Linked DNA regions of Homo sapiens. Each later gene encodes a partner of the first gene's protein in a complex. Each region holds a gene or a part of one and is shown on either strand. Other genes may lie near its edges. A codon is read from its position in the direction of its gene.

Region 1 (15,863 bases):
GCATTTTCTTCCTCGTGCTCACTGTGGGAGGGGCCTCCTAATGAGTCACACACGAGGGTTTGGGTTTCAGGAAAAGACTTGATGGAAAGAGAGGACGGTTACGTCAGAGGCTTGTAAACTGGGAAAATTTCAGATATTTAATGAGAGCAGAATAAGCCGGCCCACCCCCACCCAGACCCAGGTCCCCCACCCACCACCGAGGGCAGCTTTTGCCACCAGAATCTTGTCGTTCAGAGGTCCCGGCACCTCCAGGCCGGGTGTCTGGGCAGAGGTGGTGTGGAAGTCCCCATGTACCTGCTTCTGTCCAGCCTCAAATGGGAGCGTCACAAGCACCTTCCCTGCACCTCAGGCTCCCCGGGCACGTGGCGGACCGACCCTCGTCCCTGTGTGGGCCCCGTCCCCTTTACTGGGTCTCTAAGCCTCAAGCTCCCCAGGCACCTGGGAGACCAACCCTCCTCCGTGTGGGGGGTCCCGCCCCCTTTACTGGGCCTGTCTCAGGTGGTCCCGCACCTCCCACCTCACTGTTCACAGACATCTGGGCCCACCTGGCAGATGGTGTGAGGCCGGCCATTCCCTCCACCCCCGCCTGTGGACAGATGCCCCTGCCGGAACCTGGCCTCGTGGTGCCCAGGCCTCCCTCACGTTCTCCCCTCTCCCGCCAGGGCCCCAGGCCAGCCCAAGATCGACCACCTGCGGAGGCTGCACCTTGGCGCTTGCCCCACGGAGGAATGCAAGGCCTGCACCAGGTGAGGGGCCCCCGGAACCGCTGACTCCCAGAGATGTGCCGCTGGGGATGGCTCAGCTGATTCTAGCCCCCACCCAGCGCTCCAGACGGTCAAGGGTGGTGGAGGGAGCACGTCCCAGAGGGAGTGTTGGAGCCAGGATCCCAGGATGTGGAGCAGTTAACTTGGTGTGGCGGGGCTAGTTCAGGGAGCAGCATTGCTGGGGGGAGGAGAAGCATGGGCAGAGGCCCTGTGGCAGGTGGGGACGTGGGGAGCAGGCGTGAGGGACGGCGAGCAGAGGGAGACCTGCCTGGAAGCAAAAGTGGGGCAGGCGTAAGGGAGGCCCGCCTGGAAGTGGGAACCCGCTCAGTGCCTGCCTCCCCGCAGGTGCGGCTGTGTCACCATGCTCAAGTCGCCCAACAGAACCACGGCGGTGAAGCAGTGGGAGCAGCGCTGGATCAAGAACTGCCTGTGCGGTGGGCTCTGGTGGCGGGTGCCCCTCAGCTACCCCTGAGCCCAGCTGCCCCTCAGCTACTCCTCAGCTACCCCTCAGCTGCCCCTGAGCCCGGCTGCTGCAAGAGCCACCGCTCGCCCTGGACTCTCCTCGGCGCGGTTAACCTCAGCCCGCCCTGCAGGGCTGTTGAAGGCCGTGGGCCGGACGCCTGCGTGACCAGCAGAGCTTCTGAGGAAGCCCCTGCCTTTGTCCAGCTGGGCCCGCAGTCCACACACCACTCTCCCAGGACCCCCAGATCCCTGGACCATCTGCATCCAGAGGACCGTCCGTGACGGCCGGGGGTCCAGGCGGACCTTGTGGTGACCCGGCTCGGGCGTCTCCTCGGTTTCCTTGCCTCACCCGCGGAGAGCGCTGAACCTGGACAAGCAGCGGCTGGGAAGGACAGGTCCAATAAACGCCCTCTGCGCCCAGGCCCGCGTCCCTGCCGTCGGTGCCCCCGACCCCACCCACGACCTCGATTTGGTGCCGGGAGCCTGTGTCCTCTTGGCCTGTCTTTAAATCCTTCAGCATTTATGGGGCACCTAGTGGATGCCGAGTCTGGGGGTATCCAAAGTGAGCAGTGGGGACAGGACACAGCAGGCCGGTGGATGGGATGGGGCGGCCATCGTCAGGGTGGCTTCTGTCCAGGCATCTGCCTTTCAGTGTGTTGTCTGCCTGTCTCTATACTGTCTCTGCGTGCTCTCCTTGTTTCTGCGTGTCTCTGGTATCTCTGCACTTCTCTGTGTATGGTCTCTGTGTCTCTGCATGCTGTTTCTGTGTCTCTGCCTGACTCTGTCCCTGTTATGTTTCTCCAGCTGCTCTCTGCTGGAGGTTGCTTAGCCCCTGGGCCAAGTTTCTGCCGTTTCTGTTGCTGTCCCCAGGGGTCCCGCCTTCCGTCTCCAGCAGGCCTTCCCAGCACAGTGGTGCCCCTGCTGTGTGCCGACGGACTCCTCCTTTCTGCAGCTCTGGGGAGGGCAGCGAGGGTGGGGTGAGTGCCCAGTGCCGGCTCGCGAGGCGGGAGCTCAGGCACCCCGTCACCTGGCTGAGGCACTCCCACTTTAAGGCCCCCCCACTTTAAGGCCCCCCCACTTTAAGGCCCCCGTCCTCGGCCGCAGACTCCAAGCTCTGCTGGGACACCGAGCCCCGTCTCACCGTCCCCCTGGCCATCCTCTGAGGGACAGACCCTAGGGCAGCTCCCGGCCCCACTCCTGCGACCTCCTCTCGAGCTCAGGAGTGTGTGGGCCTCCATCTCCCCCAGTCACTCAGCATGTGTGGGGCGCCTTGTGGATGCCAGGGGTGTCCAAAGCAAGTGACAGACAGAACACAGTGGGCCCTGGCGGGTGGTTGGGGGCGGCTTTTGTCCGGGTGTCTGCGGCGTTTCCATGTGGCTCTGCAGAGACCAGAGTGCAGGAGCGCTGGCGAGGGGTGCGGGCCCGCAGTGGGTGGACGGAGAGGAGATGGGAGCGCTGGCGAGGGGTGCGGGCCCGCAGTGGGTGGACGGAGAGGAGATGGGAGCGCTGGCGAGGGGTGCGGGCCCGCAGTGGGCGGACGGAGAGGAGATGGGAGCGCTGGTGAGGGGTGCGGGCCCGCGGCGGGTGGACGGGGAGGACATGGGAGCGCTGGTGAGGGGTGCAGGCCCGCGGCGGGTGGACGGGGAGGAGATGGGAGCGCTGGCGAGGGGTGCAGGCCCGCGGCGGGTGGACGGGGAGGACATGGGAGCGCTGGCGAGGGGTGCAGGCCCGCGGCGGGTGGACGGGGAGGACATGGGAGCGCTGGCGAGGGGTGCAGGCCCGCGGCGGGTGGACGGGGAGGAGATGGGAGCGCTGGCGAGGGGTGCAGGCCTGCGGCGGGTGGACGGGGAGGAGATGGGAGCACTGGTGAGGGTGCCCATGCGTTGTGGGACGCAGGCTCGTGGGCAGCTTCAGGGGCCGGGAGATCAGAGTCACCCAGTGCCCGACTCAGAAGTGAAAATGCCTCTAGCTGACCCCAGCCCCCCGTGGTTCTGGTGACCTGGCTGAGGTCTGGACGCGTGGAGTGGGGACAGGATGCCCCCTGGTCCCATCAGTTCCTGACCACTTGAGCCGGGGTGGGCTTTGCGTCACTAGGTGGGGGGGGGGTCTGTCAGACCACTGTCACAAGCTGGCTGTCATGAGCTTCTACCTCACTCAGGTACAGTGGGGTGGGCGAGGCAGGCAGGGCATGGGGGTGCTGAGAGGCGGCCTGTGGCCCTGAAGCTCTGCTGTCCCCGCCCCCGGCTTCCCAAGGTCCTCGTCGCCTCGCGGTTCCCCCAGGGGTCCTCAAAATCTCCCTAAGAGCCAGGGACGTTGGGGCCCCGAGATACAGATGAGGAAACAGAGGCCATATATATGGCAGTGCGGAGACTGGACCGCGTCTCAACTCAGAGGACTATGTGGTGCCCAGATGTTCCCGTCCTGCATCCTCCCCACCACTCCTGTTCCACCGCCTCCTAAACCGTCTCCTCCTCCGGAACCCTCCGTAGCTCCTGCGGACCAAAGGATGCAAAGATGCCCAGGCAGGCCGGATGCAGCAGCTCACGCACCAGCACCATAAGAGACCCAGGCAGGAGGATCACTTGAGCCTGGGAGTTCAAGACCAACCTGGGGCAACATGGCGAGACCTCATCTCTACAAAAATCTTAAAAATTAGCTGGGTGGCCAGGCGAGGTGGCTCATGCCTGTAACTCCAGCACTTTGGGAGGCCGAGGGGGGGCGGATCACCTGAGGTCGGAAGTTCGAGACCAGCCTGACCAACATGGAGAAACCCCGTCTCTACTAAAAATGCAAAATTAGCCGGGCGTGGTGGCGCATGCCTGTAATCCCAGCTACTCGGGAGGCTGAGGCAGGAGAATCGCTTGAACCATCAGGCAGAGGTTGCAGTGAGCCGAGATCGTGCCATTGCACTCCAGCCTGGGCGACGAGAGAGACTCCGTCTCAAAAACAACAAAAACAAAAACGTGAAATTCACACAGTGAGCTCCAACTTCGTGGTGGTCACCAGACGGCTGAATGGGCCCCCTTCCGTGCAGTGCAGTATTTACCAAATTCCTAAGAGCAGGGCTGGGGCTTAGATGTGTCTTACCGTGCCCGGCCCAGGGCTCTGCACACAGTAAGTGCTCAATACGTGCTTGCACGTCAGTGTGATTCCTAGGTGAGTGTTCCATAGCCCCAAAAACACCCAAGCACAGTGTTCATCAATCCATCCCCCCTTTTCCCAGCGGACCTGCCTCTCAGATCATCAGTCTTTTTTTTTTTTTTGAGATGGAATCTCGCTCTGTCACCCAGGCTGCAGTGTAGTGGTGTGATCTCCACTCACTGCAACCTCCACCTCCCGGGTTCACGCCATTCTGCCTCAGCGTCCCGAGCAGCTGGGACTACAGGTGCCTGCCACCACGCCCGGCTAATTTTTTGTATTTTTAGTAGAGACGGGGTTTCACCGTGTTAGCCAGGATGGTCTCGATCTCCTGACCTCATGATCTGCCCGCCTCAGCCTCCCAAAGTGCTGGGATGACAGGCGTGAGCCACCGGCACCCGGCCCATCAGTCACTTTTTCTTTTCTCTTTTTTTTTTTTTTCTTTCTTTTTGAGATGGAGTCTCCTTCTGTTGCCCAGGTTGAAATGCAGTGGTGCTATCTCGGCTCACTGCAAGCTTCACCTCCTGGATTCAAGCTATTCTCCTGCCTCAGCCTCCCAAGTAGCTGGGACTACAGGCATCCGCCACCACGCCCGGCTAATTTTTTTGTATTTTTAGTGGAGATGGGATTTCACCGTGTTGGCCAGGATGGTCTCAATCTCCTGACCTTGTGATCTGCCCGCCTCGGCCTCCCAAAGTGCTGGGATTACAGGCATGAGCCACCGCGCCTGGCCCATCAGTCTTTTTCTACGATAGCGCCTGGCTGCCCCTCCACCAGGTGGGAGAAAGGGCACAGGGCCTCAGGTGTCCTCCCTGGCCTTGCCAAGAAGGGTGACCTGAGGTCCAGGGCCTCCAGCAAGCAGGTGCCGCTGCTCGTCGTCCTGGTGTGGGTCTGGCCGCACCCAGGGTGGTTTGTGAAGGCAGGCTCCGTGGCTCTGGGCTCCAGTCCAGGCTGTGTCCTGGAGCTTCTGTGTAAGGTCAGGAGAGTCGCACAGTCCCTGTGAGCCTCAGTTTCCCCTTATGGGATATGGGTCATAGGAACACGGCCTCGAAGGGTTTCTGTGCACCTGAGTCTCAGCCCACAGCCTTGCACACAGAAGACGCTCACATTCCCCTTGGTAAGCAAAGGGAAACGGTATGAGCCAGACCAGGAGGGGACACCCATGCCTGGCGGGCCTTCGCGCGTGTGTGTGTGTGTGTGTGGCAAGGGCGCCGCCGTGTGGCCGCGTCAGCCCCACGGAAGCGCTGGACCCGGAACTTCGCTGTATTCTCCGTTCTTGCGCTTTTATCTGTAGCTTCCCGCGTTCCTCTTTTTTTAATGTTTCTGTTTTTGTTTTGAGACAGAGTCTCGCTCTGTCACCCAGGTCGGAGTACAGTGGTGCGATCTCAGCTCACTGCAACCTCCGCCTCCCGGGTTCAAGCTATCCTCCTGCCTCAGCCTCCTGAGTAGCTGGGGCTACAGGTGCCCACCACCACGCTCAGCTAATTTTTTTTTGTATTTTTAGTAGACACGGGGTTTCACCATGTTGGTCAGGCTGATCAGGAACTCCTGACCTCAAATGATCCGCCCGCCTCGGCCTCCCAAAGTGCTGGGATTACAGGCGTGAGCCACCACGCAGAATTTTTTTTTTTTTTTTGTAGAGAGAGACAAGGTTTCACTCTGTTGCCCAGGCTGGAGGGCAGTGGTGCAATCACAACTCACTGCAGCCTCAGCCTCCTGCGTTCAAGTCATCCTCCCACCTCAGCCTCCTGAGTAGCTGGAACTACAAGCACCCACCTCCATGCCCGCCAATTGCCCAGCTAATTTTTTATTTATTTGTAGAGATGGAGTCGCGCTACGTGGCCCATGCTGATCTCGAACTCCTGAGATCCAATGATCCTCCCACCTCGGCCTCCCCTTCTGCATATAGTAGGTGCTCAATAAAGACCAACCAGATGCAGGAGTGGATGACTTCATTGCTCGGGACTTTGTTGCTTGGGTGACCCTGACCTTCAGGCCCCGGCACCCTAGGCCAGGACGCTGTCGATCCAGGCCGCATAGCTCGCCACGCGGGTGTAGATCCCGGGCTTCTTGCGGTTGCCGCAAACGCGCGAGCCCGAGGTGACCACGCCCTCGAGCACGCCCCCGCACACCAGCGGGCCCCCGGAGTCACCCTGCCGGAACAGGACGGGGCCGTGAGGGGCGGCCCGCGCCCACCCCGGCCTCACGTGTTAGACCCCCTCACCTGGCTGCCGCTCCCGCCCCACAATGCTCGCTCATCCCTCCCGTGTTAATTTGGTCTTCACTAGTCAATAGCCCCGCGCCACGCCTATCGCCTAGGCCACAACCACAAGCCACGCCCCTCTAGGCCCGCCCCCAGCTCCTGGCCACACCCCCTCTGGCCTCAACCTCACCACGTGTTCCCCCGACCCCACCCCGCTCCAAGCCCTTTCCAGTATGGGGGTCCCACACCTCATTCCTGCTCTTCCAAGCTTTGACTTGCCGTGGATCCCACTTCTGCCCTAACGCGTCTCAGTGGCCACCTGCTCTGCTCAGTCCCCACTCACCTCAGGCCACGCCCCTCCCTTAAGCCCCACCCAATCTTGGCCCCGGCTACCATGCAAGCCTCGGCTGGTCTTAAACCTCTGCCCTGCTCAGGACCCCTTCTCTTCCCTGCCACAGCAGGGATCCCGCTCCGCACCAGCCCTGCCCCTTCAGAGGTTCCCGCCCCTTCCACCTGCCCCGCCCCGTCCCCATGCCCCGCCCCTTCCTCCACGTGCCCGCCCCCTATACCTCCCACCCTTTCTCTGCCACCTGCCCTTTTGCCCGCCCTGACCCTTCTCCAGCCCCACCCTCCCCACAGGTACCGCCCCTTCCTCCATGCCCTGCCCCTCATGCCCCAACCCTCTTCCTGGCCTCGCCCCCTTGCAGTCCCGCTATTACTGGACTCCGCCCCCTCCTCGAGCCCCGCCCCCTATTCCCACCCTAACCCACAGGTCCTTCCACATCCCACCCGTTCCTGCCCTTTCTGCCCGCCCTGACCCTTCTTCAGCCCCACCCTCTCCAGAGGCCCCGTACCTTCTCCAGGCCTCGCCCCCAAGGCCCCACCCTACCCACATGCCCCGCCCCCTCATACAGGCCCCGCCCACGGGCCACCCTCATGCTCCGCCCATCTTCCAGTTCCCGCCCCCTACGCGCCCCGCCCCTTCCCTGGGCCCTGTTCCTACTTGCCCCCCGCTTCGCGCTCCCTCTGCAGGCCCTTCCCGGGGCCTGCAGGCCCCGCGTCTCCTCCCAGGCCTGAAGGCTCACCTTGCAGCTGTCCCGGCGATTGCTCTCCGCGCACATCAAGCGCTCGGTGATGGCGCCGTCGTGGTGCGTGCGCCGGTTGCAGGTGGCGCGGTCCAGCACTGGCAAGAGCACGTGCTGCAGGCTGTCCGGGCGGCGGCCCGCGTGGTTGACTATGCCCCAGCCGGCCACGTCGCAGAGAGTTCCCGGTGCCACGTCGCGGTCCACGCGCTGCCAGGGCAGGGGGCGCACAGCAGGGCCCAGTGTGGCCTTCTCCGACAGCTGAGGGTGGAGGCGGACGTCAGGGTTGGGGTGCGGGGGTGCGAGGCTGGGGAGAATGCCGCTAGGCTCGGGGAGACGGGACGGGGGAGGTGGGCATCAGGGCAGGGGCGTGGGTCTCAGTGCAGCAGGAGAGATTTAGGCTAGACCCTGGGTGGGGGTGCAGGTGGGGATGGGGTGGGTGCGAGGCTCACCAGTGCAGCTGCAAAGGTCGAGGCTGGAACCGGGATGGGGATGCAGGGGGAGCGGGGGGTGGGGGGCTCCCAGTGCAGCCGCAGAGGTCGAGGCTAGACCCGGGGTGAGGGTGCGGGGGTTGTAGGGCGGGGTCCCCATGCAGCAGGAGAGGTCGAGGCTGGACCCGGGGTGAGGGTGCAGGGGGTGGGGGGGCTCCGAGCGCAGCAAGAGAGGTCGAGGCTAGACCCGGGGTGAGGGTGTGGGGGTTGTGGGGCGGGGTCCCCATGCAGCAGGAGAGTTCGAGGCTGGACCCGGGGTGAGGGTGCAGAGGGTGGGGGGGCTCCGAGCGCAGCAAGAGAGGTCGAGGCTAGACCCGGGGTGAGGGTGTGGGGGTTGTGGGGCGGGGTCCCCATGCAGCAGGAGAGGTCGAGGCTGGACCCGGGGCGCGGTGTAGGCGGGGTGGAGTGAGGGTGGGCCGGGGATCCCAGCGCCGCAGGAGGGACTGCGCTACACGGGGCCGACCTGTAGCAGCAGGAGGTCGTGGTCGATGGTGTCGGGCTGGCTGTCCGGGTGGGGCACTGCGCGGAGCACGTCGTACAGGCGCTTGGAGGGCTCCGGCTGCGACAGGGAGTGCGCGCCCAGGAGAACCTGCACCTTCCCGTCGGCCCTGGGGACCGGACGGAGTCCGCGGTCGGTGCCAGCCGACTCCCCCCACCGCACCCGGGCTCTTCCCCCGCGCGGCGCGGGCACTCACGCGTCCTCCAGGCAGTGCGCCGCGCTCAGCACCCACTGCTCCGCCACCAGGACGCCGCCGCACAGGTGCGCGCCGTTCAGCTGCACCGACGCCATGTAGGGCCGCGCGTGCGCCTCGGCCTCTCTGCCGCCCAGGATCCGACCACGGGGCGGCGCCGCTGTGGGTGGGCGGGCGCGTGAGGGCCGCGGGGTGGACTCCTCCCCCGGGCGAGGCTGCCTGACGGGATCCCAGCTCTCACCCCCCAGGCCGCTCCCCGCAAGAATCCCATCTCTGGGCGCGGTGGCTCACGCCTGTAATCCCAGCACTTTGTGAAGCCGCGCGGGGGCGGGGGGGGAGGGGGGGGTGCAGATCATGAGGTCAGGAGTTCAAGACCAGCCTGGCCAATATGGTGAAACCCCGTCTCTACTTTAAAAAAAAATACAAAATTTAGTCGGCGTGGCCTATAATCTCAGCTATTCGGAAGGCTGAGGCAGGAGAATCGCTTGAACCCGGGAGTCGGAGTTTGCAGTGAGCCGAGATCGCACCACTGCACTCCAGCCTGGACGACAGAGCGAGACTCCCTATCAAAAAAAAAAAGAAAGAAAAAAAAGAATCCCGTTTCCGTCTTGGGGCCCCTCAGCGTTGCAAACTCAGATACCCTCGGGCGGGAATGCCCCAGAGTACAGAACCCACAGTGGGCTGGGGACCGGGGGCAGATCCCAGCGCCCTACCCTGGGCGCAGTGCCTTCCAGTTGGACATAAGAGAAATGGGGCTGACCCAGCCAGTGCCTGGGCCAGCCCAGTCAGCCACGCAGATGAAGTTTTCCACGCAGACGTTCAGACTCTGTCTGCAAGAAAAGCTGACTCCAGAAAGTTCCGATTTCCAATCTGAATTTTCTAGAATTTTTCAGCGTTCAGAGCCTTCCATTAGTGAGGAGAGACACCCCCTTCCTGCCCACCTGGAGGGGCTGGAGGACCGTCCGTGTGACGGAAGGGAGCACCACGCCCCTACACAGCCCTGTCCCTCACCCCAGGCCCAGGCCTCCTCACCGCAGGCGGCCGCTCCTAGGAGGACCAGAACTGCCAGGCGCTCCCAGCTGTGCATGGTGAAGCCGCTGTGGCTGAGACACTGACCCAGGCAGGGCCCTGGGGGTGCTTTTATGAGGGTGGAGGGGGCGGGCCGCTCCCCGGGTGGGCAGCGGCCCAGCTGGGGAAAGGGGAACTCGCCCGCCCAGCCTCCGCCCTCCCCGGGACTGGGTTACCTCCTGCCAGACTCACACCAGAGTCGACAAGTCGCTGGGAGACCCTCGGGCCTCTGTGAGCCTGACAGCCTGCTGGCCCTGGTGGGGGGCAGTCCCTCAGATGGGCAGGAGGCAGAGAGGGGGGCTGCACCCACCCCGGCCCCAACTTCACCACACCCAGAGTCCCCCAGGGTGTTTCACAATCCTAGCTGGAGGCCACAGCGTGTAAACAACCCACTTTCTTGTCCTGCTACCCTCCCTTCTTTTCCTCCTCTATATTAGAGAGAAGGTCTGTTGGGGGTAGGAAGGTCACTTGACACCTTTGTCTCTGTCCCTGTGGCCTCTGGGGCTTGACACCCTGACGAATAGAAAGTTGGAAAGGCCAAGGCAGAGGCAGCTGGGAAGACTGGCTACAAGGGACAGGAAAACCCAGACAAACTGGGTGGAGCCTGAATCATGAAAGTTATATGGAAAGTTCAGGGATGTCCGCCTTCAGGTGTGGCTTGATCCAGGTGCCTGAACAATGTCCAGTGTCTGCTTCTGGCTTCTCCTTTCTTCTCTGATGGCTTCTTTCCTCACCAGCCTCCCCTGGTGTGTTTCCAGGGACCCCACACTCAACCCAGTGGCTCAGTGGGCCCCTCCTAAAATTCTTCCTCACTCCAGCCAAGTCTCAAGGGTGCCTTGGGTTGGTGGAGCCTGGATCACACGCCCCCTCCCAAACTGTTCACTGAGGGCAGGTTCTGATGAACAGAGTCAGGGCTGGCCGGGCACAGTGGCTCCCACCTACCATCCCGGCACATTGAGAGACCCAGATAGGAGCATCTCTTGAGCCCAGGAATTCAAGGCCAGCTTGGGGAAGACGGCGAGACCCCATCTCTACAAAAAAATTAAAATAAAATACTTCTCAGAATCTGGGCCATAGGGCCTTTTGTGAGGTGGGGATTTGTGTGTGTTGTTTTTGTTTTATTACAGACAGGGTCTTGCTCTTTCATCCAGGCTCGAGTGCAGCGGTGCAATCATAGCTCACTGCAGCCTCCTCGACCTCCGGGGCTCAAGTGATCCTCCCACCTCAGCCTCCAGAAGTGCTGGGACTGCAGGCCTGCTCATGGTGTAGCTCCATTTTTCACATCTGCCCCACAGGGGCCAGCGGGATTCACGTTGCATTAATCCATGGTGCGGGGACCAGAAGGATGGGGATACCTTGTGGGGAGGACCTCAGACATTGTCCCCAGGGGGAGCAGCACACGAGGTTCCCCCGGCTTTTCTCTTCACCATGGATCATTTCTTTCTTTTCTTTCCTTTTTTTTTTTTTTTTTGAGACGGAGTCTCGCTCTGTCGCCCAGGCTGGAGTGCAGTGGCGCGATCTCAGCTCACTGCAAGCTCCGCCTCCCGGGTTCACACCATTCTCCTGCCTCAGCCTCCGGAGTAGCTGGGACTACAGGCGTCCGCCACCACGCCCGGATAATTTTTTGTATTTTTAGTAGAGATGGGTTTCACCGTGTTAGCCAGGATGGTCTCGATCTCCCGACCTCGTGATCCGCCTGCCTCGGCCTCCCAAAGTGCTGAGATTACAGGTGTGAGCCACCACGCCTAGCCTCATTTCCTTCCTTCCTTTCTCTGTTTTTCTCTTTCTTTCCCTTTCTTTTTCTTTCTTTCTTTCTCTTTCCTTCTTTTTTTCTTTCTTTCTTGCTTTTTTTTTTTTTTTGCGACAGAGTCTTGCTCTGTCGTCCAGGCTGGAGTGCAGTGGCACAATCTCGGCTCACTGCGACCTCCACCTCCCGGGTTCAAGCGATTCTACTGCCTCAGCTTCCCGAGTAGCTGGGATTACACGCATGAGCAACCACACTGGGCTAACTTTTTGTATTTTTAGTAGAGACAGGGTTTTGCCATGTTGGCCAGGCTGGTCTCGAACCTCTGACCTCAGGTGATCCGCCCACCTCGGCCTCCCAAAGTGCTGGGATTACAGGCATGAGCCACCATGCCTGGCCCCCTGTGGATTATTTCATACGCACAGAGAATAGAAAATGATATAACAACAGGGCTGGGCGTGGTGGCTACGCCTGTAATCCCAGCACTTTGGGAGGTCAAGGCGGGCGGATCACGAGTTCAGGAGATCGAGACCATCCTGGCTAACACGGTGAAACCCCGTCTCTACTAAAAATACAAAAAATGAGCCGGGCGTGGTGGCGGGCGCCTGTAGTCCCAGCTACTCGGGAGGCTGAGGCAGGAGAATGGCGTGAACCCGGGAGGCGGAGCTTGCAGTGAGCCGAGATCGCGCCACTGCACTCCAGCCTGGGCGACAGAGCGAGACTCCATCTAAAAACAAAAAAGAAAAAAACACAATGTGGGGAAGTCACTTCTGCTCCATTGCCCTGGCTGTGCTGCCCCCTGGTGGTGGCTTACTCCAGAGATGCCCAAGAGACTCTGGATTCTAGTTTGTTGTTTATTATTATTATTATCATTATTATTTATATTTATTTATTTATTTATTTATTTATTTATTTATTTATTTATTTATTTTTGAGATGGAGTTTCGCTCTTGTTGCCCAGGCTGGAGTGCAATGGAGCGATCTTGGCTCACTGCAACCTCCACCTTCCAGAATTCAGGTGATTCTCCTGCCTCAGGCTTCCCGAGTAGCTGGGATTACAGGCATGCACCACCACGCCCGGCTAATTTTGTATTTTTAGTAGATATGGGGTTTCTCCATGTTGGTCAGGCTGGTCTCGAACTTTAGACCTCAGATGATCCGCCTGCCTGGGCCTCCCAAAGAGCTGGGATTACAGGCACGAGCCACCGCACCGGTATTTTTTTTTTTTTTTTTTTTTTTTGAGACGGAGTCTCTCTGTGTTGCCCAGGCTGGAGTGCAGTGGCGTAATCTCGGCTCACTACAGCCTTCGCCTCGCAGGTTCAAGCGATTCTCCTGCCTCAGCCTCCCACGCGCCACGACGCCAAGCTAATTTTTTTTGTATTTATAGTAGAGATGGGGTTTCACCACGTTGGCAGACTAGTCTTGAACTCCCGACCTCAGGTGATCTGCCAGCCTCGGCCTCCCAAAGTGCTGGGATTGCAGGCGTAAGCCACTGGGCCAGGCTTGGACCATTTTATTTTATTTTATTTTATTTATTTATTTTTTTTTAATGGAGCGGGGGTTTTGCCATGTTGCCCAGGCTGGTCTTGAACTCCTGAGCTCAAGTGATCCGCCTGCCTCAACCTCCCAAAGTGCTGGGATTACAGGTGTGAGCCACCACGCCCGACCTACTGACCATTTTCAACACCCAATCACACAGCCAAGGAGCATCAAACACATTCTACAAAACAGAGAATGTTTATTGTGCCAGATGCTGGAGAGTGTGGGTGTGGGCAGCTGAGGTGACCCGGGCAGCCCTTCTCAGTGGGTCCTGCTGGCCGGGTCCGGGTCCCGGGGGTGGGGACAGGGGTTGTCCTCGGAGCGTTGGATGATAGAGTCGATCCAGTTTACAAACTGTGCCACCGGGGCAAAGGCATCGGGGTAGAGCCCTGAGGCGCAGCCTCCCCGGACGAAGGAGGCAATTCCGTGGATTAGCCCGTTGCAGACCAAGGGGCTGCCGGAGTCCCCCTGTGGAGGCAGACAAGGTGGGGAAGCTGGACTGCGAGGCCCTGCCCACCTGCCCGCCGCCTGTCAGGGTTGGGAAGTCCCTCCTAGGGTCTAGCCACGGTGCCTGTTGCTGCAGTCCGGGCTGGGAGCGGGTGGGGAGCAGAGGGACACCCAGGGCACGTACGAAACAGACGCCGGCCTGCCGGCCCCTCACGAGAGTGCAGACGTTGCTGCGACGGCAGAGGGACGTCACCACCGTCACGTTGAGCTCCTGCAGGACGCTGGCGATCCCACGGTTCCTGCCCAGAAGGCCCCAGCCCATGGCCAGGCACTGCACCCCGTTGCCCAGGCGGCGTCCCTGAGCCGGCAGCTGGGCCACCTGCACGTTGGCGTTGATGGTGGCCGACCCGTTGAGCTGTGGCGGTGGGGACAGATCGTCAGCGCGTCACACGGGGCAGTGATGATGACCCTCCCCTCTCCGGGCCTCAGTTTCCCCATCTCAGGTTCCACTGTGGTTCTGGGATCCTGCAGGGCAGGATACCCACCCCACACTCTGCTCCCCAAGGCAAGCCTCGGTTTCCCCATCTGTAGAGTGGGAGCCGTCACCAAGGCTCAGGGCGTTGGAGGTTGTCCCTGGATGTGGCTTGAGTGCAGGAAGCAGTAGGTGCTCAGTTAACAAAAAAACTACAGCCGGGCGCGGTGGCTCATGCTTGTAAGCCCAGCACTTTGGGAGGGCGAGGCAGGAGGATCACTTGAGGCCAGGCATTCAAGACCAGCCTGGGCAATGTGGCAAAGCCCCATGTCTACAAAAATAATAAAAAAAAATTGCCAGGTGCGGTGGCTCACGCCTATAATCCCAGCATTTTGGGAGGCTGAGGTGGGCCAATCAAAAGGTCAGGAGATCAAGACCATCCTGGCTAACATGGTTAAACCCCGTCTCTACTAACAATACCAAAAATTAGCCAGGCGTGGTGGCGGGCGCCTGTAGTCCCAGCTACCTGGGAGGCTGAGGCAGGAGAATCGCTTGAACCTGGGAGGCGGAGGTTGCAGTGAGCTGAGATTGTGCCACTGCGCTCCAGCCTGGGCGACAGAGCGAGACTTGTCTCAAAAAATATATATATATGTGTGTATATATATATTTTTATTATTTTATAAAAATATTTTTATATATTTTATATTTATTATTTTATAAAATAATAAATATTATAATTATAAATGATATTTATAATTATATAAATATTATTATAATTATAAAATAATTATAAATATTATATATTTTATTTAAATAAAATATATATTTATTATTTATAATATATGTATGTGTGTGTGTATATATATATATTAGCCAGACGTGGTGGACCCACGTGGTGGCACCTGTGGTTCCAGCTACCCCCCATTCCAAGCTGAGAGGGTGGCTTGAGCCCAGGAGATGGAGGCTGTAGTGAGCTGCGATCGCGCCACTGCACTGGGTGAGAGCTATGAGAAAACTTAGTGACAAGGAAACTCTCCCTCTAACCCTTCCCAGGGAGGAATCTTTTTTTTTTTTTTTGAGACCCAGGCTGGAGTGCAGTGGTGTGATCTCAGCTCACTGCAATCTCCGCCTCCGGGGTTCAAGCGATTCTCCTTCCTCAGCCTCCTGAGTAGTTGGCATTACAGGCACCCACAACCACACTCGGCTAATTTTTTTTTTTTGTATTTTAGTAGAGACGGGGTTTCACTATGTTGCTCAGGCTGGTCTCGAACACCTGACCTCGTGATCCACCCGCCTCAGCCTCCCAAAGTGCTGGGATGACAGGCCTGAGCCACGGGGCCCGGCGCCCAGGAAATAACCAGAACTGCAAGCCGCGGACAGGGGTGGAAAGGTGGGGACTTTTGCCCCTTTTCCCAAAGACAGAGGCGGCCCCTGCCCTGGGCCACAGGACTGGTGAATGGAGAGACACAAAGAATCTCAGTAAGTTTGTTGATTGACAGCAGATCGGGGCCTCCCTTCTCAGTAAGTTTGTTGATTGACAACAGATCGGGGCCTCCCTTCTCAGTAAGTTTGTTGATTGACAGCAGATCGGGGCCTCCCTTCTCAGTAAGTTTGTTGATTGACAACAGATCGGGGCCTCCCTTCTCAGTAAGTTTGTTGATTGACAGCAGATCGGGGCCTCCCTTCTCAGTAAGTTTGTTGATTGACAACAGATCGGGGCCTCCCTTCTCAGTAAGTTTGTTGATTGACAGCAGATCGGGG
Region 2 (13,864 bases), on another chromosome or scaffold:
CAAGATCACGCCACTATACTCTAGCCTGGGTGGCAGAGCGAGACTCTCTCAAAAAAAAAAAAAAAATTGCATTTCCAATAATTGGGGGAATAGAGTGATTCCCTACCCCTAGGTGGTAGGTGGGAAGTTTCTAAGAGAGTCCTTCCTTTTGGCATATTCCAGATCATGAAAATGGAACTGGGACTAACACCTATGCGGCCTTAAACAGTGTCTATCTCATGATGAACAACCAAATGCGACTCCTCGGCATGGAAACGATGGCCTGGCAGGAAATCCGACATGCCATCATCCTTCTGACAGATGGTGGGTATCATGGTCTCTGAGTGTGTCTGGAATAGTGGAAGGGGCACCAATATGGGGTCAGAAGCCCTGAATTCTGATTCTCCCTCTGCCTGCCACTTTGGGCCCCAGTTTTGTTTTTGTTTTTAGAGATGGGGCCTTGCTATGTTGCCCAGCTGATCTCAAACTCCTGGCTTCAAGCAATCCTCCTGCCTCAGCCTCCCAAAGTGCTGGGATTACAGGCATGAGCCACCACACCTGGCCCAGTTTCTTATTTATAAAATAGGGCCAGTGTGGTGGCTTATGCCTGTAGTCCCAGCACTTTGGGAGGCCAAAGCGGGTGGATCACTTGAGGTTAGGAGTTTGAGATCAGACTGGCTAACATGGTGAAACCCCGTCTCTACTAAAAATACAAAACCATTAGCTGGGTGTGGTGGCAGGCGCCTGTAATCCCAGCTACTTGGGAGGCTGAGGCAGGAGAATTGCTTGAACCTGGGAGGCAGAGGTTGCAGTGAGCCAAGATCATGCCACTGCACTCCAGCCTGGGTGACAGACCAAGATCCTACCTTGTCTCAAAATAAAATAAATAAATAAATAGAATTAGTGTTGATGATGATGACCGTAACCACAATGACAGCAATGATGATCATGATGGCTGTCCTCCTTTCCTTACACAATTTTTATGGAAAGCTATTTAAGTTGCCTGTGTGAAAGTGCTCTGTGTTAGCTCTTGTTACCATCTGGGAGGTAACTTGGAGATAGATGAGGAAACGTGGCTCTTGAGCAGGAATGTCGAAGGGCACGGATGCAAGGAACAGTCTGTAGTGGATCTGGCCTTGTCATTTGCCTCTTGCTATTGTCCAAATTACACAGTTCCTCCAGGACTTAGTATATAAAATGAGGATACCCACTCTACCTGGGGTTTCATGAGAATTAAATGAGTTAAAGTATAGGAAGCACCTGGCCTGGTGCCTGGAATGTAGAACATTTCAGTAAAAGTGTGTATATATATATATGTATGTATATATATATATATGTATACATACATATATATATATATATATTTATTTTTTTGAGACAGGGTCTCACTCTATTGCCCAGGCTGGACTACAGTGGTGCGATCTCGGCTCACTGCAACCTCTGCCTCCCAGGCTGAAGCAATTCTCGTGCCTCAGCCTCCAGAGTAGCTGGGACTACAGGCATGTGTCACCATGCCTGGCTAATTTTTATTTTTATTTTTTGAGATGGAGTTTCACTCTTGTTGCCCAGGCTGGAGTGCAATGGCGCGATTTCGGCTCACCGCAACCTCCGCCTCCCAGGTTCAAGCGATTCTCCTGCCTCCTGAGTAGCTGGGATTACAGGCATGTGCCACCACACCCGGCTAATTTTGTATATTTAGTAGAGGTGCGGTTTCTCCATGTTGGTCAAGCTGGTCTCAAACTCCCAACCTCAGGTGATCCACCTGCCTTGGCCTCCCAAAGTGCTGGGATTACAGGCATGAGCCACCATGCCCGGCCACACCTGGCTAATTTTTTGTGGTTTTAGTAGAGACAGGGTTTCACCATGTTGCCCAGGCTGGTCTGGAACTCCTGAGCTCAGGCAATCCGCCTTCTTCGGTCTCCCAAAGTGCTAGGATTACAGGTGTGAGCCACCATGCCCAGCCTAAAAGTATATTTTGAAGCTCTCACAGGCAATGTAAATGTTGAGGTTCCCAGGCTAAATGCTTTCCTACTCTTCCAGGGCCTGGGGAAATCCTGATATTACCTAGAAGAATTCTTTATTCTCTTTGTTCTAGGAAAGTCCAATATGGGTGGCTCTCCCAAGACAGCTGTTGACCATATCAGAGAGATCCTGAACATCAACCAGAAGAGGAATGACTATCTGGGTGAGCCCCTGCCACTGCCACCACATTTGTTCTGCTCCTGCAGAGGTCATGAGATCTTCAGCCAGGGATCCCAGCATCTTAGCTATGGTCCAGAGCCACATGGTTTTATTTCTGCGTTGTTCTGTACAAAGGCAACTCATGTTGAAGAGCCTGGGGTCAAACTACTGCCCATGGTCTCAACCTTACCTTCTTTTTTTTTTTTTTTTTTTTTAAGACAGTGTCTCACTGACACTCAGAGTATATTCCTGGAAAGATGTCCACCCATGCCGGCCCAGAAGCTGGTCCAGAAAGTAACGATGTCCACCATGCCACCATGAAGTGCAGTGGTGCAATCATAGCTTACTGCAGCCTCAAATTCCTGGTTTCAAGTGATCCCCTCAACTCAGCTTCCCAAAGTGGTAGGATTACAGGTATGAGCCACTATGCTCAGCCCGTCTTCACAAATTTTTTAAAATTAATTTTTAAATTTTTTTTGAGACAGAATCTTGCCGTGTTGCCCAGGCTGGAGTGCAGTGACTCGATCTCAACTCACTGCAACCTCCACGTCCTGGCTTCAAATGATTCTCCTGCCTCAGCCTCCAGAGTAGCTGGGATTACAGGTGTGTGCCACCATGCCCGGCTCATTTTTGCATTTTTAATAGAGACAGAGTTTCACCATGTTGGCAGTCTGGTGTCAAACCCCTGGCCTCAAGTGATCCGCCTGCCTTGGTCTCCCAAGGTGCTGGGATTACAGATAGGCGTGAGCCACTGTGCCTGGCCAATTTTTAATTTTTTAATTATTATTTTTAATCAACAGCTTTAGACAGAGAACCTTGGTTTCATCTTCAGTGGGCTGTGGCCATGGGCAGTTTCTTCATCTGCAAAAGGGGAGTAGTACTAGGACCCAGCTCACAAGCTGACAGGGGAAGATGCTCAGACAAACACTGCCTGCCTGGCATAGAAAAATGCCCAGCATATGTTAGCCATGACCACGACCGTCGTCGTTATCATCATCATCATCATCATAGCATCTCATGTTTCAGGAAACTTTCCAGGAAGAAGGGACCTCGATTCCCTCTGGGGAATGTCCCTGGTGGTTGCTCTTTCAGCAGCACAGCTGGCTAACTAAGGCTTTGGCAGTTGCAGCCTCTAAAGGAAAAATTCCTCAGGTTCAGACTAAACACAAATTGCACTGACCTTTGATCAGAAAGTAATTTCAGAGAGAGAGATGCTCAGACAGGGAGGGCAGCTGGTTTTGAGCCCCAACCTTTCATCTTCCCCTTAGCTCCTCTCCTTTCCATTCACACTGCCCCCTCCCCCATCACCTGGCCCTCGGGGGTAAGCTGATTCCTCTTTAAAACTCTGGCCCAAGGAAGACAAAATTTAAAGCCCACTCCCTTCCTCCTTAGCATCACTGGACCAAGGTCAAATGCTACAAAAACATTTTATTGAAAATAAGCAGGAAACCAAACGAAAATAGTCAAAGAAAACGCACAAGGCACGATCGTTGTCTAGCTCCAACTGTAACTGTTTCTATCTGGGCCATTGCCAGATTGCCTCCTGGCTGAAGATCTCTTGGTCCACCTAAGCACCTTGCTTTTTACACACAACGCGGGGCTCTCTGAGAACAAAAATGGGCCACAAGGGGTGCAAAGGCTGGGAGAGGAGTAGACTCTGTGGTCTGTCTGAGGGCAGTTCTGACTGGCACCACAGTCGGAGGACAGGCGCGGCCTGTTGTGTGGGTCCAGGGCCTCCAGTGGGAAAACGTGGCTTTAGGCCCTTCTCCCAGATGCTACCTTTTACAGAGGAAGACCAGATCTGAGGTTTAGTTTCCATGTTGTGTTCTGAGTTCTTTCTATTCATTCAGTCATTTAAAAGTACTTACCAAACTACCACAAACCTGGGTGGCTTAGAACACAGAATTTCTTTTTCTTACAGTTCTGGAGGTTAGAAGTCTGAAATCAAGGTGTTGGCAGGGCCGTGCTTCCTCAGAAGGCTCTTGGGAAGAATTCTTTCCTGCCTTTTCCGGCTGCCGGCAGCTCCAACCTTGGCTTGCGGCAGCATAAACCCATTCTCTGCCTCTGTCTTCAACTCGCCTTCTTTTCTGTGTGTGCCTCTGTGTCATTACATGCTGTTCTCTTATATAGATAGGAGACCCACTACCTGTGTCTTTGTGTCCAAATTCCTTTCTTCTTTTTCTGTTCATTTGTTTGAGACAGAGTCTCGCTCTGTCACCCAGAAGCCCAGGCTGCAGTGCAGTGGCGGGATCCCGGCTCACTGTAACCTCTGCCTCCTGGGTTCAGGTGATTCTCGTGCCTCAGTCTCCCAAGAAGCTGGGATTACAGGCATGTGCCACCATGCCCGGCAAATTTTTGTATTTTTAGTAGAGACATGGTCTCGCCATGTTGGCTAGGCTGGTCTTAAACTCCTGGCCTCAAGGCGATCTGCCTGCCTTCGCCTCAAAAAAACTGCCGGGATTACAGGCATGAGTCACCACCATGCCCAGCCAGTTCACTTTTTTTTTTTTTTTTTTTTTTGAGATGGAGTCTTGCTCTGTTGCCCAGGCTGGAGTGCAGTGGTGCAATCTCGGCTCACTGCAACATCCGCCTCCCGGTTCAAGCGATTCTCCTGCCTCAGCCTCCTGAGTAGCTGGGATTACAGGTGTGTGCCAGCATGTCTGGCTAATTTTTGTATTTTTAGTAGAGACAGGGTTTCACCATGTTGGTCAGGCTGGTCTTGAATTCCTGACCTCGTGATCTGCCCGCCTCAGCCTCCCAGAGTGCTGGGATTACAGGTGTGAGCCACCGTGCCCGGCTCACCTCTTCTTTTTTTTTTTTTGAGACGGGGTTTTGCTCTTGTTGCCCAGGCTGGAGTGCAATGGCGCGATCTTGGCTCACCACAACCACCGCCTCCTGGTGATTACAGGTGTGAGCCACCACGCCTGGCTCTGGCTTACCTCTTCTTATAAGGACCTCAGTCATTGGATTAGAGCTCACCCTAATCTAGTATGACTTAATCTTAACTTGATTACATCTGCAAAGACCCTTTTTCCAAATAAAGTCACAGATACTGGGGATTAGGACTCGAACACATCTTTCTGGGGGACACAATTCCACCATTACAGGGAATAAACAGGATAAGAAAACCATAGAACCCAGCAGGTGGTAGGTGACACAAGCTAAGGGGTGTTGCCATGTTGCCCAGGCTGGTCTCAAACTTCTGGCTTCAAGGGATCCTCCCACCTTGCCTCCCAAAGTGGGGATGAAAGTTTGTCTGGGGCATTGCAGTTTTAGACAGGAAGACCAGGGAAGGCCTCACTGAGAAGGTGACATTTGAGCCAAGACTTAAAAAGGTACGAAAGTGAGCCATGTGGAAGTCTGGGGGGGAGGAGTGAACTAGGCAGAGGCACAGCTGGGCAAAGGGCCTGAGGTGTGACCATGCCTATGGATTTGAGGAACTTCAAAGAGGCTGTGTGCTGCAGGAGAGTGAAGGGCAGGGAGTGGCAGGAAATGAAGGCAGACAGGTAGCAGTGGGGAGGACGCAGGGGTCCAGCTCATGTAGGTCTTGATTGGACACAGTGAGTTTCAGATGACAGCCTCCTGTCTCATGGGGTAGCCCCAAAGCCACAGGAGTCTGGTGATTTCCCTCTTCCCCACCAGACATCTATGCCATCGGGGTGGGCAAGCTGGATGTGGACTGGAGAGAACTGAATGAGCTAGGGTCCAAGAAGGATGGTGAGAGGCATGCCTTCATTCTGCAGGACACAAAGGCTCTGCACCAGGTCTTTGAACATATGCTGGGTGAGTGAGCTTTGCCCTCCTTGGTGTGGGGAGGATGGTGAGGAGCCCGCCAGAGGCCCGTGTTGGGAACCTGGACACAGTGCCCCTCACTTGCCTCCTTCCCCATCTGATCCTCACACCCACAGATGTCTCCAAGCTCACAGACACCATCTGCGGGGTGGGGAACATGTCAGCAAACGCCTCTGACCAGGAGAGGACACCCTGGCATGTCACTATTAAGGTACCAGGAAGGAGGGGCAGGGCTTGGATTCCAGAGGTAAAAGCGGCCATGGGCCAGACATACTGCAATCTCTGAAAATCACCTGTTCCCCTGCAGCCCAAGAGCCAAGAGACCTGCCGGGGGGCCCTCATCTCCGACCAATGGGTCCTGACAGCAGCTCATTGCTTCCGCGATGGCAACGACCACTCCCTGTGGAGGGTCAATGTGGGTAAGGCAGGGGATGCACCAGCCTCCTGATCCTGAAGCCACAGATCCTACCACCTCACCCAGCCTCTGGCCCCTGCAGGAGCCCTGGTCTAGCCTAATCTAGTGTATCATTTCCAGGAGACCCCAAATCCCAGTGGGGCAAAGAATTCCTTATTGAGAAGGCGGTGATCTCCCCAGGGTTTGATGTCTTTGCCAAAAAGAACCAGGGAATCCTGGAGTTCTATGGTGATGACATAGCTCTGCTGAAGCTGGCCCAGAAAGTAAAGATGTCCACCCATGCCAGGTGCCTGGAGTCTGGGATGGGAGGGTGCCCTGCAGGGAAGAGTGCTCTGGAGATCCCTGGAAGAGATACTGGGGACAGGCTGGTGTGACCCTTGCTCTTCTCCCCAGGCCCATCTGCCTTCCCTGCACGATGGAGGCCAATCTGGCTCTGCGGAGACCTCAAGGCAGCACCTGTAGGGACCATGGTGAGTGCTGGGACTTATGGTGCTTGAGAGCTGGGGCCGGGGTTTGGGGGTGATAACAAGGACTAGGCTGCAGTCCCCAAGCCAGGAACCTGGATTCTGGGTAAAAGGACCAGCACCAACATCCCCTTCTCTTGACTATAGAGAATGAACTGCTGAACAAACAGAGTGTTCCTGCTCATTTTGTCGCCTTGAATGGGAGCAAACTGAACATTAACCTTAAGATGGGAGTGGAGGTGAGGGTCTCAGGTTGGGGATGCTGGGATCCCCCTGTGACAGCTCCCAGAATGTCTCTCTTCCTTCTCCAGGTCTGGCTGCTTTCTCTCTCTGACGCGGGTCACCCCTCCTCCCAAGCCTCACAAACCTGCTAGGTGTCCCTGGGTCTGCTTATTCTTTTTTTGTTGTTATTGAGATGGAGTCTTGCTCTGTCTCCCAGGCTGGAGTGCAGTGGCACGACCTCAGCTCACTGCAACTTCTGCCTCCTGGGTTCAAGCGATTCTCCTACTTCAGCCTCCCGAGTAGCTGAGATTACAGGTGCCCACCACCACACCAGCTAATTTTTGTATTTTTAGTAGAGACGGGATTTCGCCATGTTGGCCAGGATGGTCTTGAACTCCTGACCTCAAGTGATCTGCCTGCCTCAACCTCCCAAAGTGCTGAGATTACAGGCGTGAGCCACTGCACCCACCCGGGTCTGCTTATTCTACCCTTCTCTCTGGTTCCACCCCTGCTGCAGTGGACAAGCTGTGCCGAGGTTGTCTCCCAAGAAAAAACCATGTTCCCCAACTTGACAGATGTCAGGGAGGTGGTGACAGACCAGTTCCTATGCAGTGGGACCCAGGAGGATGAGAGTCCCTGCAAGGGTGAGTCCCTCACCATGCCTGGATTCCCAAGGGGAAGGCCACCTGTGTCTCTGTGGCCAGCATGCATGCCAGAACACCAGTCCACTGCCCTAGATGACACTGTCTCCTGTCACCCTTTGCTGGCAGGAGAATCTGGGGGAGCAGTTTTCCTTGAGCGGAGATTCAGGTTTTTTCAGGTGAGAAGGTAGAAGCTTGCAGGACCCAGGGGTTACAGGATCTCAGCCTTGTTGGGGGGATGAGGGAGGCCTTTGAGGGATCTAGGGAGGTTGGGGCTTACAGTTGGGGCTGTGGCAGCCTCCCAGCCAGTTCTCTCCTTTTCTCCAGGTGGGTCTGGTGAGCTGGGGTCTTTACAACCCCTGCCTTGGCTCTGCTGACAAAAACTCCCGCAAAAGGGCCCCTCGTAGCAAGGTCCCGCCGCCACGAGACTTTCACATCAATCTCTTCCGCATGCAGCCCTGGCTGAGGCAGCACCTGGGGGATGTCCTGAATTTTTTACCCCTCTAGCCATGGCCACTGAGCCCTCTGCTGCCCTGCCAGAATCTGCCGCCCCTCCATCTTCTACCTCTGAATGGCCACCCTTAGACCCTGTGATCCATCCTCTCTCCTAGCTGAGTAAATCCGGGTCTCTAGGATGCCAGAGGCAGCGCACACAAGCTGGGAAATCCTCAGGGCTCCTACCAGCAGGACTGCCTCGCTGCCCCACCTCCCGCTCCTTGGCCTGTCCCCAGATTCCTTCCCTGGTTGACTTGACTCATGCTTGTTTCACTTTCACATGGAATTTCCCAGTTATGAAATTAATAAAAATCAATGGTTTCCACATCTCTCAGTGCCTCTATCTGGAGGCCAGGTAGGGCTGGCCTTGGGGGAGGGGGAGGCCAGAATGACTCCAAGAGCTACAGGAAGGCAGGTCAGAGACCCCACTGGACAAACAGTGGCTGGACTCTGCACCATAACACACAATCAACAGGGGAGTGAGCTGGATCCTTATTTCTGGTCCCTAAGTGGGTGGTTTGGGCTTACTGGGGAGGAGCTAAGGCCGGAGAGGAGGTACTGAAGGGGAGAGTCCTGGACCTTTGGCAGCAAAGGGTGGGACTTCTGCAGTTTCTGTTTCCTTGACTGGCAGCTCAGCGGGGCCCTCCCGCTTGGATGTTCCGGGAAAGTGATGTGGGTAGGACAGGCGGGGCGAGCCGCAGGTGCCAGAACACAGATTGTATAAAAGGCTGGGGGCTGGTGGGGAGCAGGGGAAGGGAATGTGACCAGGTCTAGGTCTGGAGTTTCAGCTTGGACACTGAGCCAAGCAGACAAGCAAAGCAAGCCAGGACACACCATCCTGCCCCAGGCCCAGCTTCTCTCCTGCCTTCCAACGCCATGGGGAGCAATCTCAGCCCCCAACTCTGCCTGATGCCCTTTATCTTGGGCCTCTTGTCTGGAGGTAAGCGAGGGTAACCTTCCCTTCCTGCTGTCTCCAGCATCCCTCCTTGGCCTTTTGGGGCCAGGCTTCATCAGCCTTTCTCTTCAGGTGTGACCACCACTCCATGGTCTTTGGCCCGGCCCCAGGGATCCTGCTCTCTGGAGGGGGTAGAGATCAAAGGCGGCTCCTTCCGACTTCTCCAAGAGGGCCAGGCACTGGAGTACGTGTGTCCTTCTGGCTTCTACCCGTACCCTGTGCAGACACGTACCTGCAGATCTACGGGGTCCTGGAGCACCCTGAAGACTCAAGACCAAAAGACTGTCAGGAAGGCAGAGTGCAGAGGTTTGAGGGCAATGAGTGTGGGCAGTGGCCTAAGGCAGAAACAGGGCAGGCGGCAGCAAGGTCAGGACTAGGATGAGACTAGGCAGGGTGACAAGGTGGGCTGACCGGGAGTAGGAGCAGTTTTAGGGTGGCAGGCGGAAAGGGGGCAAGAAAAAGCGGAGTTAACCCTTACTAAGCATTTACCCTGGGCTTCCAGGCAGCCCTGGAAGTCAAGAGAACACTCAGAAATGGGGAGGGAGAAGCAGTGGAAATCCATATGGGTTGAGGAGTAGGTAAGATGCTGCTTCTGCGGGACTGGGAATGCGCTGTTTCTCAGTGACATGGTCTCCGAGACCAGGAGGGATACACCTAAGGCAGCCTTTCCCTCTTGATGACTTCTACTTGTCCCCCCTTCTCAAAGCAATCCACTGTCCAAGACCACACGACTTCGAGAACGGGGAATACTGGCCCCGGTCTCCCTACTACAATGTGAGTGATGAGATCTCTTTCCACTGCTATGACGGTTACACTCTCCGGGGCTCTGCCAATCGCACCTGCCAAGTGAATGGCCGATGGAGTGGGCAGACAGCGATCTGTGACAACGGAGGTGAGAAGCATCCCCTCCCCCTACATTGCTGTCTCCCTGACGGCGCCCAGCCCGAGGAGTGGGCACTCGGCTCCGGACACTGTAACTCTTGCTCTCTACCTTGCTCACGGGGCCTCAGGCTTCAGTGCTTACCTCGATGTCTCATACCTCTGCAGCGGGGTACTGCTCCAACCCGGGCATCCCCATTGGCACAAGGAAGGTGGGCAGCCAGTACCGCCTTGAAGACAGCGTCACCTACCACTGCAGCCGGGGGCTTACCCTGCGTGGCTCCCAGCGGCGAACGTGTCAGGAAGGTGGCTCTTGGAGCGGGACGGAGCCTTCCTGCCAAGGTGACCTTTGACCTGTACCCCCAGGTCAGATCCTGGTCTTCCATCCTACTGTCTTCTCTCCCCACCTCAACCCTGCTCTTTCCTCACTTTGTTTAAACCTCCCTGTACAACTATCTCACTTCTGAGCCTTTTATACCCTGGAAACCCATGATCCCCCGTCTCTTTGGTCACTGTATCCCTGACACTCCCAGACATTTGACCTCATTTCTGACTCTCCCAGACTCCTTCATGTACGACACCCCTCAAGAGGTGGCCGAAGCTTTCCTGTCTTCCCTGACAGAGACCATAGAAGGAGTCGATGCTGAGGATGGGCACGGCCCAGGTTTGAAGACAGAGAAGGGAGGCAGGGCAGGGAACTGGGGGAAAATGGAGAAGGGACAGAACTGTTAATGCTGGAGCCTGAGCCACTCTCCTGGCACCCAGGGGAACAACAGAAGCGGAAGATCGTCCTGGACCCTTCAGGCTCCATGAACATCTACCTGGTGCTAGATGGATCAGACAGCATTGGGGCCAGCAACTTCACAGGAGCCAAAAAGTGTCTAGTCAACTTAATTGAGAAGGTGGAATCCTCCTATCCCTGAACTCGGGGGAATGGAATCTCGCTGATCTTCCAGGACTAGCTCCCTGATCATTCCAGCCCCTCTGAACAACAGGGCCCCAGGAAAATCTCCAGGTCCTATTCTGTCCTCCTTCCCTTTTACTTGAAGCAGTTTCTTGACTGGTAATTCCTCCATGAACCTCAGCCCTTGAGCCTCTTACTGAGAGCCTCCCTGTCCCAGCAAAGTCGCTGAAATCTCCCAATCACAGTATTCTATTTTCAATGCCATGGCGCCTTGTTCTCCTCACCCACAGGTGGCAAGTTATGGTGTGAAGCCAAGATATGGTCTAGTGACATATGCCACATACCCCAAAATTTGGGTCAAAGTGTCTGAAGCAGACAGCAGTAATGCAGACTGGGTCACGAAGCAGCTCAATGAAATCAATTATGAAGGTCAGAGGTTAGGGAATGGTGGGAGGTTCACTTTGGGGTCAGGAGGTTCAGGGTGGAGGGGGTCATGAGACTACCTTGAGGGCGACAGGGAGGACCACTTTGTAGTCAAAAGTTGAACAGCAGGATCGTTGGGCAATGGAGGTTAGTGGGAACCTGTTGGGGGCTGGAAGGGCCACTTTGTGGTCAAAGGGAAGTCCGTGTAATGATGATTAACTTAAAAAGTTGAAAGATGTGGGATTTCAGTTGCAGATTGGTCTCTGGGGTTAAAAGATGGCTTGGAAGACCAGGTGAGGTGATGGTCTCTTCCCTCTCCACAGACCACAAGTTGAAGTCAGGGACTAACACCAAGAAGGCCCTCCAGGCAGTGTACAGCATGATGAGCTGGCCAGATGACGTCCCTCCTGAAGGCTGGAACCGCACCCGCCATGTCATCATCCTCATGACTGATGGTCAGAAGGGACCTCTCTCCTGTCCCAGCCTCCCCACCTTCTCAGACCAGCATGTGGCCCTTAAGTCCACTTGTAACACTATACCCATGGTTGGGGCCCTGAATGTGACTCATAGCTGGCTGTTCATCTCTCCTGTGACCCTTCATAAGGAATTCTTCCTAAGCCCTGTGATCAACTATCTCTAACCCTTCCTCAACTTGCTCACCCTGCCATGTGTATCCCTGCCTTTAGCCAGTTTATCTTCCTTATCTCCTACCCTCATGGTCCTGTCTCTTCTGCAGGATTGCACAACATGGGCGGGGACCCAATTACTGTCATTGATGAGATCCGGGACTTGCTATACATTGGCAAGGATCGCAAAAACCCAAGGGAGGATTATCTGGGTGAGTAACCTGCCTAGGACCCAGCACCCCACTTCCTCAGGGCTTGGACCCTCATCCTTCCTTTTTATCCCTCAGATGTCTATGTGTTTGGGGTCGGGCCTTTGGTGAACCAAGTGAACATCAATGCTTTGGCTTCCAAGAAAGACAATGAGCAACATGTGTTCAAAGTCAAGGATATGGAAAACCTGGAAGATGTTTTCTACCAAATGATCGGTAGGGAGATACAAGGGAATAAAGAACACAACTCTCCTCAGGTTCCCCTGAAGTAATTCATTCTTCCTCTACACCTGAAGCTCTAGTTGCCTGGAAAGCCTTCTTCATTCCTCCTTCTCTACCTCAGTGTCACTATTCTTGTTTCCTGGCACTGTTCACTTAACCTTAGAATCACAGAGCTCTGAGCACTTCAGAGATCTTTCTATAGTCCTACATTTGACACGTGGAAACAGAAGCCAAAGGAGGTCAAGGGACAGCAAGTTAGCAACAAGGGTGGGCTTGAAAACAGCCAGGCCTCTGACAGCTTGATCCCAAGTTCTTTCCCTTTTCAGTCCACCATAGCAGTTTTCTCCTAACACGAGGAAACAAATACCCGTGGTCTTTCCCTTTCTCCTTTTGGGCCTTTGCTCCCCATAGACTCCTACCCAAAAGGCTGCTGCCATTTGGGAATGAAGTGTTCCGAGTTTTCAGCACATTCTCCTTCTCTGCCAGATGAAAGCCAGTCTCTGAGTCTCTGTGGCATGGTTTGGGAACACAGGAAGGGTACCGATTACCACAAGCAACCATGGCAGGCCAAGATCTCAGTCATTGTAAGCACAGAATCCCAGTAGTGGGGACTTGGGGGAGGTGAGGTCAAGGTGAAATGGGAGTAGGGGAAGGAAAAAATGGCCATAAGAGATGGTGGTTTGTGAAAGTTGAGCTTTCCCTCTCTACTGTTGTGTCCCCAGCGCCCTTCAAAGGGACACGAGAGCTGTATGGGGGCTGTGGTGTCTGAGTACTTTGTGCTGACAGCAGCACATTGTTTCACTGTGGATGACAAGGAACACTCAATCAAGGTCAGCGTAGGTAAGGATGCAACTGAAGGTCCTGGGCTGCACCTATGCTCTCCAGGCAACACCTCCCACTTTCTACAGATCCTACACTCCACCCATCCTCAATGCAGCCCCATTCCTTGCACCCCAGACCAGTCAGGGATGGGGGAAGACGTGAAGTTAGGAATGACACGGGGCCAGAGGCAGGAAGCTGCCCACAAAGAGGTGGTACCTACTCTCCTACTTCAGGAGGGGAGAAGCGGGACCTGGAGATAGAAGTAGTCCTATTTCACCCCAACTACAACATTAATGGGAAAAAAGAAGCAGGAATTCCTGAATTTTATGACTATGACGTTGCCCTGATCAAGCTCAAGAATAAGCTGAAATATGGCCAGACTATCAGGTGAGAGCGTCCAGATCCCTGAGGAAAGGCTGGGAAAGGCTGGAGGACTGGGGTGAGGAGCAGGCCTGGTTTGCTGTTCTCCTTGTCCTTTATAGGCCCATTTGTCTCCCCTGCACCGAGGGAACAACTCGAGCTTTGAGGCTTCCTCCAACTACCACTTGCCAGCAACAAAGTAAGACATACTTGGCAAGAGGATAAGGATGAGATCCCAAGAGACAAGTGGGGCATGAGAGGGAGGTGCAATAGGA

What was found.
Region 2: the proteins of CFD (region 1) and CFB are in contact, whole or in part, in a crystal structure (PDB 2XWB), measured with the Homo sapiens proteins. Residues at the interface, in NP_001919.2 of Homo sapiens: Asn157 (codon at 7,799), His158 (codon at 7,796), Ala159 (codon at 7,793), Gly160 (codon at 7,790), Arg161 (codon at 7,787), Arg162 (codon at 7,784), Arg182 (codon at 7,724), Thr183 (codon at 7,721), Asp186 (codon at 7,712), Arg200 (codon at 7,670), Val228, Cys229, Gly230, Asn231, Arg232, Lys233; in NP_001701.2 of Homo sapiens: Glu298 (codon at 10,920), Ala301 (codon at 11,221), Ser302 (codon at 11,224), Ala332 (codon at 11,314), Asp333 (codon at 11,317), Ile469, Asp470, Glu471, Ser472, Glu518, Tyr519, Lys585, Asp758, Glu759, Asp760.

Annotation. Positions count from the first base shown.
Region 1 is NC_000019.10:853,746-869,608, reverse strand, and holds CFD (complement factor D isoform 1 preproprotein), read right to left. Parts: upstream 9,946-15,863; 5' UTR 9,920-9,945; coding exon 9,865-9,919; coding exon of another isoform or gene 9,844-9,864; intron 8,993-9,843; coding exon 8,836-8,992; intron 8,749-8,835; coding exon 8,604-8,748; intron 7,911-8,603; coding exon 7,653-7,910; intron 6,518-7,652; coding exon 6,371-6,517; 3' UTR 5,968-6,370; downstream 1-5,967. Other genes in the region: MED16 (mediator of RNA polymerase II transcription subunit 16), read left to right, coding at 663-746, 1,110-1,193, 1,358-1,508; ELANE (neutrophil elastase preproprotein), read right to left, coding at 13,445-13,651, 13,815-14,045.
Region 2 is NC_000006.12:31,937,157-31,951,020, forward strand, and holds the start of CFB (complement factor B preproprotein), read left to right. Parts: upstream 1-8,938; 5' UTR 8,939-9,065; coding exon 9,066-9,129; intron 9,130-9,216; coding exon 9,217-9,450; intron 9,451-9,850; coding exon 9,851-10,036; intron 10,037-10,191; coding exon 10,192-10,365; intron 10,366-10,585; coding exon 10,586-10,687; intron 10,688-10,788; coding exon 10,789-10,925; intron 10,926-11,217; coding exon 11,218-11,356; intron 11,357-11,673; coding exon 11,674-11,805; intron 11,806-12,086; coding exon 12,087-12,188; intron 12,189-12,263; coding exon 12,264-12,401; intron 12,402-12,893; coding exon 12,894-12,991; intron 12,992-13,129; coding exon 13,130-13,247; intron 13,248-13,462; coding exon 13,463-13,616; intron 13,617-13,711; coding exon 13,712-13,788; intron 13,789-13,864. Other genes in the region: complement C2 isoform 1 preproprotein, read left to right, coding at 163-303, 2,075-2,164, 5,803-5,943, 6,069-6,163, 6,260-6,371, 6,488-6,653, 6,761-6,837, 6,979-7,070 and 3 more.